Regions from separate parts of the Homo sapiens genome. Here region 1 is linked to region 2. A link means that fine-mapping ties the variant in region 2 to the expression of a gene that starts in the linked region. Tissue or cell type: stomach. Region 2 holds a variant in brackets; the other region holds the start of a gene. All regions are shown on one strand. Distances are from middle to middle.

Region 1 (8,110 bases), 370 kb before region 2:
GAGTTAGGTGGTTATTTCATGTGGGTCATGGAATTCAACCACCAGAAGACCAAATTGTAGTGATTGTTTCATTTTCTATTACTTGTGACTTTGCTTGTGTCACTGGATAGAGGAACTGGCCACACTTACTGTTCATTCTCATCCCCTTTATCACCTGAGTGTAAAGACCCTATTGAGATGTTGTAGAAACAGAATATTTTCATATTGGCTTCTTCACCAGATTCTCAGCTTGCCAAAAAGAGCCAGGAGGCTGGACTGGTTATTTTAAGATAAAGTTTAGGGCCAATAAGGCAAAGGTAAAGGATGTAGTCCTTCTAAATCCTGCTTCTGTTTCAAAAGTTTAAGTTCCCTTCTCTCCATAATGCATTTTCTGACTACTTCCACCCATGTTATTCAATCTTCATTTCCTTTGAGCAGAAGATGCCCTTGATTGTTTTCCGTGTTCAACTAAGTTGTGGGCTGCTGGGGTCAGGGACCAAGTTTTATGCTTCTTTGGTATCACCCATGATGTCTAGCACACTGCTAGGCACAAAATAAGTGCTGTGAAACAAAAATGGAATCTCTGGACCCCAAACTGACTAAGCCAAAAGAAAAGCTAAGCTTGGGAACTGAGTCACTAAAAAAACTGCTTTCTGTTATTGGAAAAAACTACTTTAAAGTTCATATGGAACCAAAAAAGAGCCCACATTGCCAAGTCAATCCTAAGCCAAAAGAACAAAGCTGGAAGCATCATGCTACCTGACTTCAAACTATACTACAAGGCTACAGTAACCAAAACAGCATGGTACTGGTACCAAAACAGAGATATAGATCAATGGAACAGAACAGAGCCCTCAGAAATAATGCCACATATCTACAACCATCTGATCTTTGATAAACCTGACAAAAACAAGAAAAGAGGGGAAACGATTCCCTATTTAATAAATGGTGCTGGGAAAACTGGCTAGCCATATGTAGAAAGCTGAAACTGGATCCCTTCCTTGCACCTTATACAAAAATTAATTCAAGATGGATTAAAGACTTAAATGTTAGACCTAAAACCACAAAAACCCTAGAAGAAAAGCTAGGCAATACCACTCAGGACATAGGCATGGGCAAGGACTTCATGTCTAAAACACCAAAAGCAATGGCAACAAAAGCCAAAATTGACAAATGGGATCTAATTAAACTAAAGAGCTTCTGCACAGCAAAAGAAACTACCATCAGAGTGAACAGGCAACCTACAGATTGGCAGAAAATTTTTGCAATCTACTCATCTGACAAAGGGCTAATATCCAGAATCTACAATGAACTCAAATTTACAAGAAAAAAACAAACAACCCCATCAAAAAGTGGGTAAAGGACATGAACAGACACTTCTCAAAAGAAGACATTTATGCAGCCAAAAGACACATGAAAAAATGCTCATCATCACTGGCCATGAGAGAAATGCAAATCAAAACCACAATGAGATACCATCTCACACCAGTTAGAATGGCGATCATTAAAAAGTCAGGAAACAACAAGTGCTGGAGAGGATGTGGAGAAACAGGAACACTTATACACTGTTGGTGGGACTGTAAACTAGTTCAACCATTGTGGAAGTCAGTGTGGCGATTCCTCAGGGATCTAGAACTAGAAATACCATTTGACCCAGCCATCCCATTACTGGGTATATACCCAAAGGATTATAAATCATGCCGCTATAAAGACACATGCACACGTATGTTTATTGCAGCACTATTCACAATAGCAAAGACTTGGAACCAACCCAAATGTCCAACAATGTGGCACATATACACGATGGAATACTATGCAGCCATAAAAAGGATGAGTTCATGTCCTTTGTAGGGACATGGATGAAGCTGGAAACCATCACTCTCAGCAAACTATAGCAAGGACAAAAAACCAAACACCGCATGTTCTCACTCATAGGTGGGACTTGAACAATGAGAACACACAGACACAGGAAAGGGAACATCGCACACCACGGCCTGTTGTGGGGTGGGGGGAGGGGGAAGAGATAGCATTTGGAGATATATCTAATGTTAAATGACGAGTTACTGGGTGCAGCACACCAACATGGCACATGTATACATAAATAACTAACCTGCACGTTGTGCACATGTACCCTAAAACTTAAAGTATAATAAAATAAAAAATAAAAAAATTTTAAAAACCTGCCTTCTGTTGTTACCAGGTAGCTGCAACAATAGAAGGCCACATATCTCCCCAGATAGCCTCCCTCACAAATTGCTTACAGTGAAATGCCTTGTGGGTCCCTAAATCTTTCAGAATGCATATCCCTCCTATAAATGAGCCCTAAAACACAGTTCTGTTGAATCTCACTCTGACAATAACAGCTCATCTTCATATGTATGGTATAAGGACAAGACTTGGAAATCATCCCTCTGCCCACCCCAAGACAAATTCATAATTGACTTTCCCCCTATTTTCACATTTATCTTATGTAAAATGTAGATTTACTGAGCATGAGAGGAACACATAATCAGTATTCCTCTACCCACTCTTCACACGCAAAATGTGAATTCACTGGGCACTAATCAAAGCCTCACAAGAATGTAACTTCTTCCCTCATTGCCTACCTTCCCATTTCCCTTTTTTTTCTTTCTTTTCTCCTTCCCCTCCTGCTGGCTCTTTCCCCTTTAAATACTGAAGTCCTCAAAAACTCTCTTTGCAAAAGGCACAGATCACAGATGTTCCTGTATTTGTGCTTTCTCCTGGGGAATGTCCTTAACCTTGGCAAAATAAACCTCTAAAACGATTGAGACCTGCCTGTCATTTTTTTGGTGCTTAAAATCCATGATGGAATTTTTAATCACTATTTTAGACTTGGGTAAATCTGGCTGTGAAAGTAGTGACAGAGTCTTTTAGAATTTTCTTCTACCAAAAATAATTAATCAGAAAGTCCCTGAGAGAATTTCAGATACTCCTGTAAGGATCAAACCTAAATTTAAATTAGACTTGTAGATCTGTGCATACCCAGTGTCTCACACATATAAACTCAATAAAAATTTATCGAATGACCAAGTGAAGAAATGTTCTTTCAGCTTTTCCTTCAAGACTCAGAAAAAAGATATCTGCAGTTCCAGAATGGACTGAGTGAACAAGAAAAGAACAGATCAGTGACACAAAGACAGCCTTCTTTTTCCCTTTCAGGGTGACTCAAATTGTAGTCCTCATCTGAACAGTCTGAGACACAACTCTTGTCTCATATTAACTCGATAGGGCATTTGCTATACTCCCATTTACACAAACTGCTCAGATGCCCCAAATGCTGAGTCTGTTCGTCTTCATTTTATTCCTTTGGGAGATGCCGGTACAAACTTGTTTTTTCTTTCTTTTTTTAAATGGAGATGTGACCACCATAGCAACTAAAAGACATAAATCTTGCCTAATTGAATCAGTGTGCTCAAGATAATAGCCAGGGCAGAGACTGAGTTAAAACTGGGGTAAGGGTGAGAGTGGGGAAATGGATGAGGATGATAAAAATATTTATGTCCCTAGAATTTGTGGGTTTGGATTAATTCTGTTTCGTAAGGAATATTGTTGGCCTTCAAATGCAGTGCCACTTGGGAGAGAAGCAAGCGGGCAGTAGTTGAGGTGTCTCTGCAGTTGAATCGCAGTGAAAGGCAGGTTATGAGTATAGGGACCGCCCCTCGGCCATGTGGTCCCCTCCCTATCCTGAGGATAACGACATTTGAGAGAAGCCAATGGTATTGGAAGGCCAGAATCGAACTTAAGCCGCTTAGTTGGTACAACTGTAAACCCTCCCTCACAGAGGCTGGGCCCTGCAATCTTTCTAAGCAGGGTAAAGAAAAGTAAGGGGACTTCCTTTTCGAAGAGGAGGTTCCCGCGTGCTGCACCCGACCTTTCCCTCAGGGCCCAACACGCGTTATATAAATGCCAAGTTACTCAGGGACGCACACGTGAGAAGGCTGGGGCCCGACACACGCGGTGTAGTGCCGAAGTCACCGGTGTGGCGCGCCTGGGGGACACGCCGAAGCCCATTTCCCTCCCGCTTCTGGAAAGCAGTCCCCGCTCTTTCCAGCTGCTCCGCGGGGCGTATGGCTGTGCGCTACCTCCTGCGGACCCCAGGCTGGGCGAGGGGGCAGCGATGGCCACATGGCGCGCTCGGGGAGATGGCAGCTGCGCTTTGTTTCCAGCAGTGATAGGTGAGTCACTGGCTCCCGCAGCCCCAGAGCTGGGCAAACACTCAGGCCCAGGCAGCTGAAAAATTCACAGCAGGAGCAGCTACCGAAGCGACTGCAGCCTCTTCCTCCTCTTCCTCCTCCTCCTCCTCCTCCGCCACTGCTACCGCCACCACCGTGGTAGCCGCCTCCGCGCCCTGCCTCCGCCCCGTCCCCTCCTCCTCCACCCGCGAACTTAGTCAGCGGTTCGCGCCGCCGAGCGCCCATTGGCCAGCGGAACGCGTCGCGTCACAATGGAGCCGGTCGGAGGCGGCGAGCCGGACAGCGCCGGGGCTTCCCGCTGAGCCCGCAGCCTCCGGCAGCCGGGAAAGTGCGGGCGCGGGGCCGCAGCCTGCCCGCCCGGAGCGGCCCAGGAGCACGCCGCGGGGAGCGCGGGCGTCCGGGGCTGGAGTCGCGCAGGTAGGTCGGAGCGTGACACCCCGGTTCCAGGAGGGCGAGCCGCGCCGACCGAGGTGGTGGAGGAGGAGGACCGGATACGGGGACGCAGCAGGTGGGGCTGGCCGAACAGGTGCGGTTACCTGTTCACGCCTCACCTGCGAGCCAGGCTGCGGGCCGGTAGCGCGGCTGCAGAGACGAGTGGCCGCTTCGTTGTGCTCCCTGCCTTCGGGAGAGACGGAGTCCCACGCTGAGAGGACCTCTCCTGTGTGCTGGGGTCATTTGGAGCAAGAGGTGTGGGCGGTCGCGCCGAGACGGTCACCTCTCTTTCCCCCGGGAGTCTCGGCGTTGCACCTGAGCGTGAGTCCTCGGGGCGGGGCGGGAAAGGGGTTCCGCTTTCCCAGGCTGGCGTCTCGCTCCAGATGAGCGCAACTCCCCTGAGGGTGCCCCCATTTGGTCGCTCTGTTTTGCCCCCTGCGCTGGCGCTGTTGGGAACTATTTTATGCTCTTGGGAACTATTTTATGCTGTTGGATACGCGTTGGTTGCCTATAATTTGGTGGTGGTGTTGGGCGTTGATTTGTTTGAGAAAGAAAGGGCAAGCGTTACCAATTTAAGAAGAAGACTCAAGAGTTTCCCCTGAGCTTAGTTGAGCAGGTGCTGAGAGGTCAGAAGGGAGGAGGCTCAGTATTGGCTCATTAATCTGTGTGCTCAACTGACTTCCTAAAGTCCATAGATTGCCTTTAGTTAGATGACATTTGTGGAAAACTTTTTTTTTCTTTGTGGTCAAAAAGACACCCCTCTAAAAGAACAAAACCGACATGTGAACTTCCTTGAATAAATTCACTTCGCCTAAAGACTTCAAACAAACAAACAAAAAAACACTCCACTGGTAAAAGATAACAGTATGAACATTTTAAATTGTAGATATATAGCCAAATTAAAACAGGCAATTTGTTCAGCGTATATTAAGAAGACATTACGTAGCATGATTTTTATTAAAAGACAACCTATTTGCAAATGATATAGTAGTCTTTGCAGAACACCCCAGAAATCTTAAAACAGATTTATCTTTATCAGATGGTTCTGTCCCCTAAACCTAGGTGTAGGAGTGAGGATGGAAAAGAAGTCAAACTGCAGTGTAATTTTTTAAACAATTCCAGTACCCTCTATGTGTACAGGCTACACCTCCTGAGAACCCCAAATGCTCTTTGTTTTGTTTCTTTGTTTTGTTTTGAGACGGAGTCTCACTCTGTCGCCCAGGCTGGAGTGCAGTAGTGCGATCTCGGCTCACTGCAACCTCCACCTCCTGGGTTCAAGTGATTCTCCTGCCTCAGCCTCCCGAGTAGCGGGGACTACAGGGGCCCGCCACCACGCCCAGCTAATTTTTATATTTTTAGTGGTGGCGGGGTTTCACCATGTTGGCCAGGCTGGTCTGAAACTCCTGACCTCAAGTGACCCACCCACCTCGGCCTCCCAAAGTGCTGGGATTACAGGTGTGACCCCAAATGCTCTCTGAATTGTGGGTGCCGAGGTGACTTTCTTTTTCTCCTGGCTTTCCTTGTCAGCAGCTCTACTCAGAGAATATAAAGTGACAGCCAACCCCCAAGGTAATTGGGCCTGTGTAATTTTAGAATATAAGCCCTAACATGTCTGATATTTCTGTAAGCTAAAAAGAGGTCTCTTGAATGGGGGTGATGTTGTCATTGAGTGCACCCTTGGGTCATGGCACTTTCCTTATACTTAGTATCCCCAACAACATTTTTAAATCTGCATGTCGGAATTAAGTTTACCATTCTTTGAAATGTGTTCTCTTTTTCCTCAATTGGTAAGGTGTTCCAACATGTTCAGCCTATTATGAATCTTTTCACATTTTGAATGATTTCATTTGACTAGTTGAGATTTGCTTTTTTAAACCTCTTCTCTACCACTATCACCATTTCCCATTGCTATTTTAATTTTCAGAATCCTCAGAGTGAAAACACCAACAGTAAGTAAAATGAAAAGGGGCTTAATAAAACTTAAAGGATACTAAGCCTTCCAAGTTTTTTAGACTAATCCATGTATTTTCCTGTAGTGGCCTGAAATTTGTTATTTTTTGTTGTTTTCTGAAGTTTAAGGGGAAAAATATTTTACAATTTAGAACATCCTTGTTTTAGCCAATGTTTTTCTTATAAACAAGGGTTTTTGTTTTTGTATTTTAGTTTTCAAATTCTTCTAATAGTACCTGAGTATTTTATGTTTTCTGGACTTTTTACTATTCATAGCCTGTTTAACCCAATCCCGGATTTTCATTTGGTGTCTCTAAAGTTGAATTCTCTAATTTTACTCTTATTTCTCCTTCCCAGCATCCTTCTACCACACCCTGATATTATTAGAAATGAATGCATTCTGATTCTGTCATGTTATTACACACTTGGTGGCATGATTTGCATTGCCTTGCATGGAGCAGGTTCTCCACTGCTATCCTGACTCCCAGAGCACTGGGTACATCAGCAAACAGTTCAGACCTGTGACCATTCAAGAGGAATTTGGGAGACCCAGTTATAGTGTAGAATTTATTTAACCATTTGTAAAATACCTTCTAATTTGTGTCATATCTGTTTTCATATTGCTGCCTTTTATTGCTATTGCCTACTTTCATTTTATTCCCCATCTGTATTTTCTAAACTTCCTACATGCCTTTATTATGACTTAATTTCTCTGGTGTTTAAAATAATGCCTTTGGCAGACATAATAACCTATTTTTCTTTTTCTGATCATTAAGGTTGATCTTAAGTAAAATTAGGCCTAGCTCCAATCACTGATCTCTCTCCTAAGTTCTTATCACTGTGGTTCATTTAGAAATTGAACAAAGGGTAACAATAAACTCCCTGTTCTATGACTGCCTTTCCTTTAGGATTCTACTCAATTGCCACACAATTTACATTTACTCCTTCAGTGCTGCTGTGAACCTGAGTAAAGGAAATGAATAAAAATGAGTTGTCAGGGCTTCAACCTTGACCTTTCCTTTTTGCCTTTCTGACCTTTTTGCTGCTTTTGATATGGGTCATGTGATTCTGCTTGTTTCTTTCTAGACTGTATATATTTAAACTTCATCTCTTGCTTTTTTTAAATTTCAGAATCCCTTTAAATTCTTTCTTCTCATCTGTCATCCTGTGACCATTTCCAGGGCTCCATTCTGCAATGCCTATTCTTCAGCTAACAAGCACAGCATATTTCACAGACGCTGCCAGCTGCACAGCTTCTATTTCTCTTCCGTATCCAGCTCCATGCAGGTGACTGAGATCTTCCTCTGCTCATCTCTCATGGAGACCACATTCTTTATTGTTGAGTAGCATATTCCTTTTGATTTCTTCTCAGGTAGCAGATTTAAGAGCATATTCAAACTTTCCTTATTTTCTTCTGTCAAATTCCTTTTCAGCATTTTGAAACTTTTCTCTTTTCAAAATCTCTTGCAAATTACAAGCAAGAGTTCTTCAAGGTTTTACCTAAGAGAACAAACTTCATAGACTGACAGGCCTGA
Region 2 (8,110 bases):
ACAAGGCTTTAGGCTGATCCCTGTTAAATATCATCTTGTTTGTTTTAGCCTGCCTTTTCAACCTATGGAGATCTTTTTGATACCTGATTCTGTTCCCCAGCCCATTTGCTATCCTTTTCAGCATTGTGTGATTTAAAATTTTTCATCTTCCAAATGATTGATAACAGTGTGGGATAAGGTAGGACCAAGTTCCCCGCTTGGCATTATTTAGCACTCTAGGTGCAGTCATTTGACCTGTAAGGAATCTACAGAACCGTCACTAGATTGATATTTCCTTTTTTTTTTTCTTTTGAGACAGTCTCGCTCTGTCGCCCAGGCTGGAGTGCAGTGGCACCATTTCAGCTCACTGCAAGCTCCGCCTCCTGGGTTCACGCCATTTTCCTGCCTCAGCCTCCTGAGTAGCTGGGGCTATAGGCGCCCGCCAACACGCCCAGCTAATTTTTTTGTATTTTTTAGTAGAGACGGAGTTTCACTGTGTTAGCCAGGATGGTCTCGATCTTCTGACCTCATGATCCACCCACCTCGGCCTTCCAAAGTGCTGGGATTACAGGCGTGAGCCACTGTGCCTGGCCGTAGATTGATATTTCTGTCAAATTCACAAGGTTATTATATGTAACTTTGTTAAAACTTTCTTGAAATCAAGTAAAATTCAATCAGACAAAGTTTATTTGAAATTACATGTCCTCAGCTTTCAGTTGACATGTGGTTAATTTGTTCATTCATTCATTTATTTATTTATTAAACAGATAATCTATAAACATCTATATGACAGGTACTGTCCTAGGTGCTGAGAATAGAGTGTGAACAAAATAGACAGGATCTCAGCTTGTGGATCCATAAGCAACCAAAAACATAAACAAGATAATATAAAATAGCTGTAAAAGCTATGAAGAAATGAAATGAGATGGGGACTAATCAGGAAAGGCCTCAATGAAGAGGTGCCAGCTGAGCTAGGGCAGGAGTGTTGAGAAGAAGGGAACAATGAGAAGATCTGGGGAATGAACAGTCCTGCAGAGGGATGAGCACGTGCAGAGGTCCTGAGATACAGGTGAGCTTGGCATATTCAAAGAACTGAAGGGCAGCCAGTGGGCGAAAACATGGTTATAGCTTTCAGTTACTTGAAAAATATTCGTTATCACTTTTTTCCTAGAAAGCATCTAACTTCATGCTTAAAATTTGACTTTATTTGCTCATTTAACTAGGAAAAAAAAGGTAGACCAGAATTGCAAGGGAATTAGCATATTTCCCCAGGAACAAAGTATTCTGAAAACAAAACAACAGAAAATACTGGAAATTATGCATTTTCAAGATTGATAAGAATGCTCTTGTTTTCCCAAGCATACATTTTTTCCCTGAAGTAGATACAGTGGAACCCATCTATATTGTAATGGGACATACGTTATTGTTCTGAATGCTTTAATATCTAGTATTTTAGAATGTCTTTTATACTGGATAGTAGTGTAAAATGCCTTGAGACATGCAGTTGGTTTTTAGACTTAAGACCTCTTGATGATTGCAGACTTACTCTTTTTTCAGTAGAGCATAGTGGAAACTAAAGAGTTTTTTAGATGAATATCTGGAGTAATTTAATTACCATTTTAATTGTTCTGTATTTGCAGATAATTGGTGATGTGAGTTTTTGACTGACTTGAGATTAAAATGTGCTAAACCCTTACCTGATAACTCTCATTAGAGCAATATATGCTGGAAGCAGAGGGCTCTTGTTATGGACTAAGTGTTTATGTCCCCCACAAAGTGTTGAAATCCTAACCCCAGTGTAATGGTATTAGGAGGTAGGGCCTTTGGAAAGTAATTAGGGCATGAGGGCTCTGCCCTCATGGATGGGATTCATGCTGTTATAAAAGGGACCCCAGAGAGTTCTCCTGCCCTTTTCTCACCATGTGAGGATAGACAGGGAAGTCAGCTGTCTGCAATCTGGAAGAAGGCCCTCACCAAACTCGGCTGTGTTGGTACCCTGATCTTAGATTTCCAGATTCCAGAACTGTGAGGAATAAATGTTTGTCATTTAAGGCACCCAGCCTGTGTAATCTGTAATAGCAGTTCAGACTAAGACAGCCCCATATTACTCACTCTCCATCTGAGAGTGAGCCGAGCACATAGCATTCTTGGCATCAGTAGCACAAGGGTATGAAGGGAAATGCTTGAAGATAACTGGAATGTATAGTAGAAATGTGATTCCTGTTTATCTCTGAGTGTTAACTTTCAGAACATAGGAAATTGAGATGCTCCCTTAAACATTCTTTTAGATAGCAATTTAGGGAGGCAAGCTGAACTTAAATCTTTTAGGAAATTGGACAGAGTCATAGCCCATTGGGTTTAGAGGTAGTATAAGAAAGGTTGCTGACATTATTTGGCTAAAGTGAATGGAGAACAGAGTAAACCAAGAAGATAGTGTTCATGTACATCATCAGCACAATACTGAGTAAGCTGAAATATAGAAAAATAATGTATGCTTACTATTATTGGAATGTGAGTGACATAAGTAAATTTCATAAAGGGAATATAAGTCACCACTCAAATAGTTGTTTCTTTCCTTTCCTTAAGATACAAGTGTTCCATATCTTACGGGTGAGTACAATATTGGCTGATGTGATACGGAAAATTCTGTCAAGTTCGGAGACAGCCATAGTGTTGAAAGTTCTGAGTGCTTTCAACACTATCAAATAGTGCTCATATTCTTTCATTGTCAGATTCCATGACCCAAGTGTGTCTGTAGGTGAAGGTCTCCCACCCCCACCCCACCCACTGATCACTCAGTAAGCAAGCAGGCTGATGTCTCAGTGCCTACAGTGAGCAGTGTTAACTGACTCCTGTACTTGCTTGTCTGAGGACAGACAGGTGTGCTAGATAATTAACATTTTTTGGAAACAAAATTATTACATTATCCTAAAAATAAATCAACATACTGGGAACACATGCAGGACTTTTGTATTACTACGCAAGAAAAGATAAGCCTACTATATTCATATAATATATTATGAAGTCTGTTAGATGACCTTAAATTTGTTCATTTTTCTTATTTGACAAGAGTTTTAAATCCCTATGTATTTACAGATTTGGCAGACTTGGTATGTTTTCTTCAAGCTATCATAAACAAGCAAATGGCTCAGAAAAATTCCCAGCTAGGTAATTTTATCTCAAATATCTGCTTAATTTCAAAGGCAACTTGAGTTAGCCCTGTGCAAACTCAAAACACTGTGTGTAAATATATGTGTAATAATTTTTTTTCTACGTACCACATGTATCTTCTAAGTAGCATAATGTTGCTTTTAAAGATGTACTGTTTGTTTTTTTACTTTTAATTTTCTATGTGAACAAATTTGACATGTACTTTTAAAAATTAAAATATCTTCAAGTTTCTATTCATATATAATATTTCATTTTAGGCAACAATTGAACTTCTGAAAAGTTGATGAGACGTTGAACTTCTGTAAGCTAAATTATTTTTAGATGTCTTGAAAGAACTCTAAGAAGATGAATAATCATACCAATTTTTTTCATGATTTTAGTAATCTCTTTATCATGTTTCTTAAAGCAGTTTACATCTATGTATAATTTGTGAGGCCCAGGATAGAATGTCTCTGAGTCTGATACTCCAGAGTAGCATACTCAGCTCTACAGGGAAAACTTTTCCATAGGAAACATCAGAAAAGGAAAGGTATGACAGCACATGTTTATTAAACATATTACATAATATATGTCTCCTCCTGACAGGCAAGCGTTAGAACCTTTATTAGACATTGTCATCTTAATATAATGTAATGTCCACAAATACATTCTCTAATAGACAAGAAATGATACATGAGTTTTAGGTTTCCAGACTAACAACCCAAAATCTATGGCTTAAGTGGCTTTGTATAAATACATGGCCAATAACGGCATATTGCCGGGACTTGGAGCAGAGGTAAGAGTGTGGGGAGAGGATCAGCCTTGAAGACTCCCTTGTGGGTGAGTGGGAGGGTAGAGGGGTGGATGAAGGTGGTAAAGGATAGATGGGAAGAGGCCAGGAGGTGGGGAAGGGAGGGGTCGTAAACTTTGGTTCTGGAGGAGCCCTTAGAGATCGTGTCGTCTGACATCATCATTGCACAGAAGGGGAAGCAAGATAAAAATGTTTATGTGCCTGGCTCGTGGTCA[C/T]GTAGCTAGTGGCCAAGCAGGACCTAGAATGCAGATTTCTGACTCCCAGCACACTTTACACACTGGGAGTTTGCTAAGAGTAGCTGAGAAATACACACAGTGGCTTGGCAGGGAGAGAGAGGCTGTGAAGACTTAACACAGGTGAGGGGTGTTCAGGCCGAGGGTAGGGCAAGCTCCTGTGTGAAGATCAGGGTTTACCACCCCTGGAGGACAAAGGTAGTGAGAACCCAGCACAGAGGTCAGGACTGTAGTCAAATAGATTAGCATTCAGGACAGAGTCCAGTCTAAGAGCGGGAAATCGCCATATCACACTAGTGATGATAATAATTACTCTTTCTTTCTCCCTTTCTGTCTTTCTCCCTTTCTCTCTCTCTGTCTCCTCTCTTTTCTTGTGAATCATAGTTGTTAATAAACAAGCTAAATCTATATAGTGCGAAATAAACATATTCACATATTCTCAAAAAAAATTACTACTTGTTGGATGCCTATTGTGCATTAGACATTAGGCTAGACACTTTATTGCAGCATAATCATTTAATTGTCATAATAATCCCTTTGGAAAGGTGTGGTGGTTCAGTTTTTGCAGATGGGGGTGCTGATTGATATTCAGAGAGTTAAATAATTTACTTGAAGTCAGCAGAGTGTATTAGAAACTATTCATTACTTTGGGACCAGAGGGGCAGAAGGAAATCCAAAGGAAGAGAAGTATGCAGATGTGTTCAGATACACACTTTGATGATAACTATTGATGTATGTACATCTCTCTTGGCTATGCTATAGGAATACCTTAAGTAATTCAGTGGCAATATACCTTCTTGCTAGTATTTTAATAGTATAGATCGGTTAATGAATTATCTTAGAAACATTATACTTGGTGTATTCTGTTGCTTTATGGTTTCATTTTAGGTTGAGTATTAAGGGAACACAGTATTTTAATCGGGACTCTGCCAGTGCTTTTATCTACAGGCCTGTTGCCATTTTTGTCTTCTGTGAAATTTTTGTCACAAGAAAGGCGAGATTATGTTTTTTCCTAGCAGATTGAGTTGGTGTAGTATATTCTTGGTTATCAAAATACTTACATAGATTTGAGATTTTGAATTGGTAAATATTCATGTGGTGTTTAAAAGCATGATACATATTGCACAATCTTAATCCCATTAAATTGGATGCTGTGTCTATACACACGCAGGACCTAGGAGGACACGTCAAACTGTAAACTGCTTGTGATTGTGGATAACTTTGTTCTTTGCTTCTTGTGTTTTTCAGTTTCCTATCAGGCATATATTAACTTTTTTTAAAAAAGGTTATTTTTAATAACCTGAAAAAAAAACTGATTTGCTGAAGGTCAATAGTTTGCTCTGAGAGAGGACACCATGATTTGAACTGGTCTGCCTTAGCCAAATCTCATTTGATTTCTGCAGTGCTATGTTGCCCTCCCAGAATCACAGATAAAAGTGGTGGGCAGCCGAGGTGCAGTGGAGGTAGAGGCTGGGACAAGGTGCATCCCGGTGAGTGCCTGGTACAGGGAAGGAGCAGCATGGTCATGGTGTGATAATTGGAGGCCACCTCTCCTAGCACAGCAGATAACAGAAGGAATTCCCACCTAACCGCCATACTCGCTCCTAAGCAGCTGAATAAAGATGTCTCTGATATGTGGCTGAACCTCTGTATGTGGTTTAGTGCTCACAGGCAGCCGATACTGAGAGGAAAAACCTTGGGTTCCTAAAACTTTTAAAACATTGAATACGAGCCAGTAAGCAGTCATTGGTATACTGCAGTTATTGTACCAGAGTTAACTGATGCTGTAGAAGTGAGGCCACCACATTTATCAAATCTAAAAGCAATTCATGGGAGGATGGTGAAAAATGGAAAACCGCAACCTGATGAGGAATCGTGAAATATCTACGTGTGGATGTTTAGCCTTGTACTCCACCTCTATGGGGAAGGGAAGGAAAGCGTTATTCATTGAGCATCTCACAATGTTCCAGATATTAGATGCTTGCCAATCCTCGCAAATTCTACGAAGGAAATACTCTCACTTCCTGTGGATCAGGACATTGAAGCTCAGAAAGAGCTCATTTGCTGTGGATCACATAGCTAGTAAATGGATTCACACCCAGATATGCCTGAATTCAGAGTCAAGTGGAAGAGGAATTAGACTTAAATCTGAGTGGCCCCAGCAGCAAGGCTAGGATCAGTGAGTGTAAAGGAGAGATCGGTTAATTTCATAGACTGATCCAAAAGAACTTTCTTGTAATAAGTGCTGTTCCCGAAATCAAGCAAAGTACCTTAAACACAGATACACATACACAAACAGCTTTACTAAGATTTAATTTACATACTGTAATATTCACCTGTTCTAAGCATACAACTACAAAGTACCTTTTAAGGTAGTACATTTCCTGTCATTAGAAATGTTTGTGCAGAAAGGGCTGGAAAATCTCCCAGATAGAGTAGAGGAATGTTGTGTTTCCATCTCTATGAAAGCCAGTGTTGAGTAACTCAAAAGCAGTGTCCATACTGTGATGTGCTGAGTGGCTGTTTACTTAAGTGTTTTAAATGTCGCTGGATGTAAAGGAAAGGAAAGTTCCAAAAGGTGTTCCAGTTGGGCTTTTCATCTTAAATTTAGATCAACGAGATGAGCTCTTCAGCTTCGGAAACACCCAGGCCTTTCATTCTGGCTGCATACTACAGTTGCAGAGGAACTTTTCAACAATTCAGGTGTAGATTCAAGGGCCTACCCTAGGTCCACTAAGTTGGTACCTCCGGGGGTGTGGCCTAGCATTACATTAGTTTCTGAGGCCACCCCGCATTATTCTAGGGTGCAGCTGTGCTGAAAACCACTTTCTTTGGCTGAGGAGAGGCTCAAGTGTGCCAGAGGGTCATGGAGGGTCAAAGTTACAAACCAATCCCATTCTGCCGGTGACCTGTCTTTTCTGCATGGTCAAATCAGCCACATCCAAGTTACTTCTAGTTCGCCAGCCATTGCTGCTGTGCCATGTCTGGCTCTTTGAAGATGTCTGACAGTGTTGGCAGTTAACCAGAGACAGTTTTGTGACTTAATAACCAGATCAACTTTGTATGTAATTCATGTCCACCAGACATTTTTGCAGAGCTTTAGGATGGAGAGGACCTTGAGGAAAGAATTAATGTAAACTGCATCACCTTAGCTGATCATCATTCCTGCTTTTAGAACAATTTGAACAATTACACTCACATTTGAAAATTTTGTGCATCTGTTCTTCAGTTGTGCAGGTCACAATGTATAGGCCCACATCAAAGGATCAATGCTTTCAGATTTGTCTTCTATGTGGAACTTGTATGGTTAAATGATTATAATGTAGTAAAGTGAAAATCTAGTCTGGGAGCTAGAGGGTGTCAGAACTGATGGTCCTGGGGATCCTTTGAAACCTTTCTGAGCTTGTTTCTTTGTCTGTAAAATGTGACCAACAATTCCTGCCTTGCAGTATCACTCTAAGGATTCAGCTAAAGAATATGTGTGATAAAGTCTTACAACTATGTATTTATTGCACCCCTTCCATGTGCTGGGTAGTATACTAGTCCCTGGGGAAACAAACGTGAATGAATTATGATCCCTGCCCTGGAGAATCTTACAGCTTTAGTGAAGGAGATAGACTCAAAACCAGATAATTGTACGAGAGTGTAGAGGGGCAGAAATGCACAGGATACTCTGGGAGCATCAAGGGAGGATTAAAAGGACTGGGTTATTGGTGTAGAGATTTCCAGGAAGGCTTACCATAGGCACTGATGGCAGGCAAAGACAGGTAATTAACAAGGTAAATTGGAGAAAACTGGATACTTTAGGCAGAGGAAATGCAATGGGCAAAAGCCTGTGGATGAGAACCTGGTAGAGGGACGATGTGTTACAAATGCTGATGGTGTTTTATTCAATTCTTGCTTTCCCCTGGGAGAAATGACTTTTGGGTACAGTGCA

Evidence for each region. PIP is the estimated chance that this variant, and not a neighbour inherited with it, causes the effect.
Region 1: it holds the start of LRRC8B, and the variant in region 2 is fine-mapped to the expression of LRRC8B in stomach (GTEx, PIP 0.95).

The regions. Positions count from the first base shown.
Region 1 is chr1:89,520,413-89,528,522 of GRCh38, forward strand. It overlaps LRRC8B (leucine rich repeat containing 8 VRAC subunit B), which reads left to right and starts at 4,417. Exons shown (of 6, transcript NM_001369817.2): 1 at 4,417-4,610. RefSeq lists a silencer at 4,281-4,740 and enhancers at 5,442-5,943, 5,944-6,445.
Region 2 is chr1:89,892,248-89,900,357 of GRCh38, forward strand. The region is part of intron 2 of LRRC8D (leucine rich repeat containing 8 VRAC subunit D); the gene reads left to right. Among named protein-coding and RNA genes, the nearest start is that of LRRC8D-DT, 75 kb to the left of the region's middle. RefSeq lists a silencer at 1,983-2,277. The variant C/T (reference allele first, on the strand shown) is at 4,156.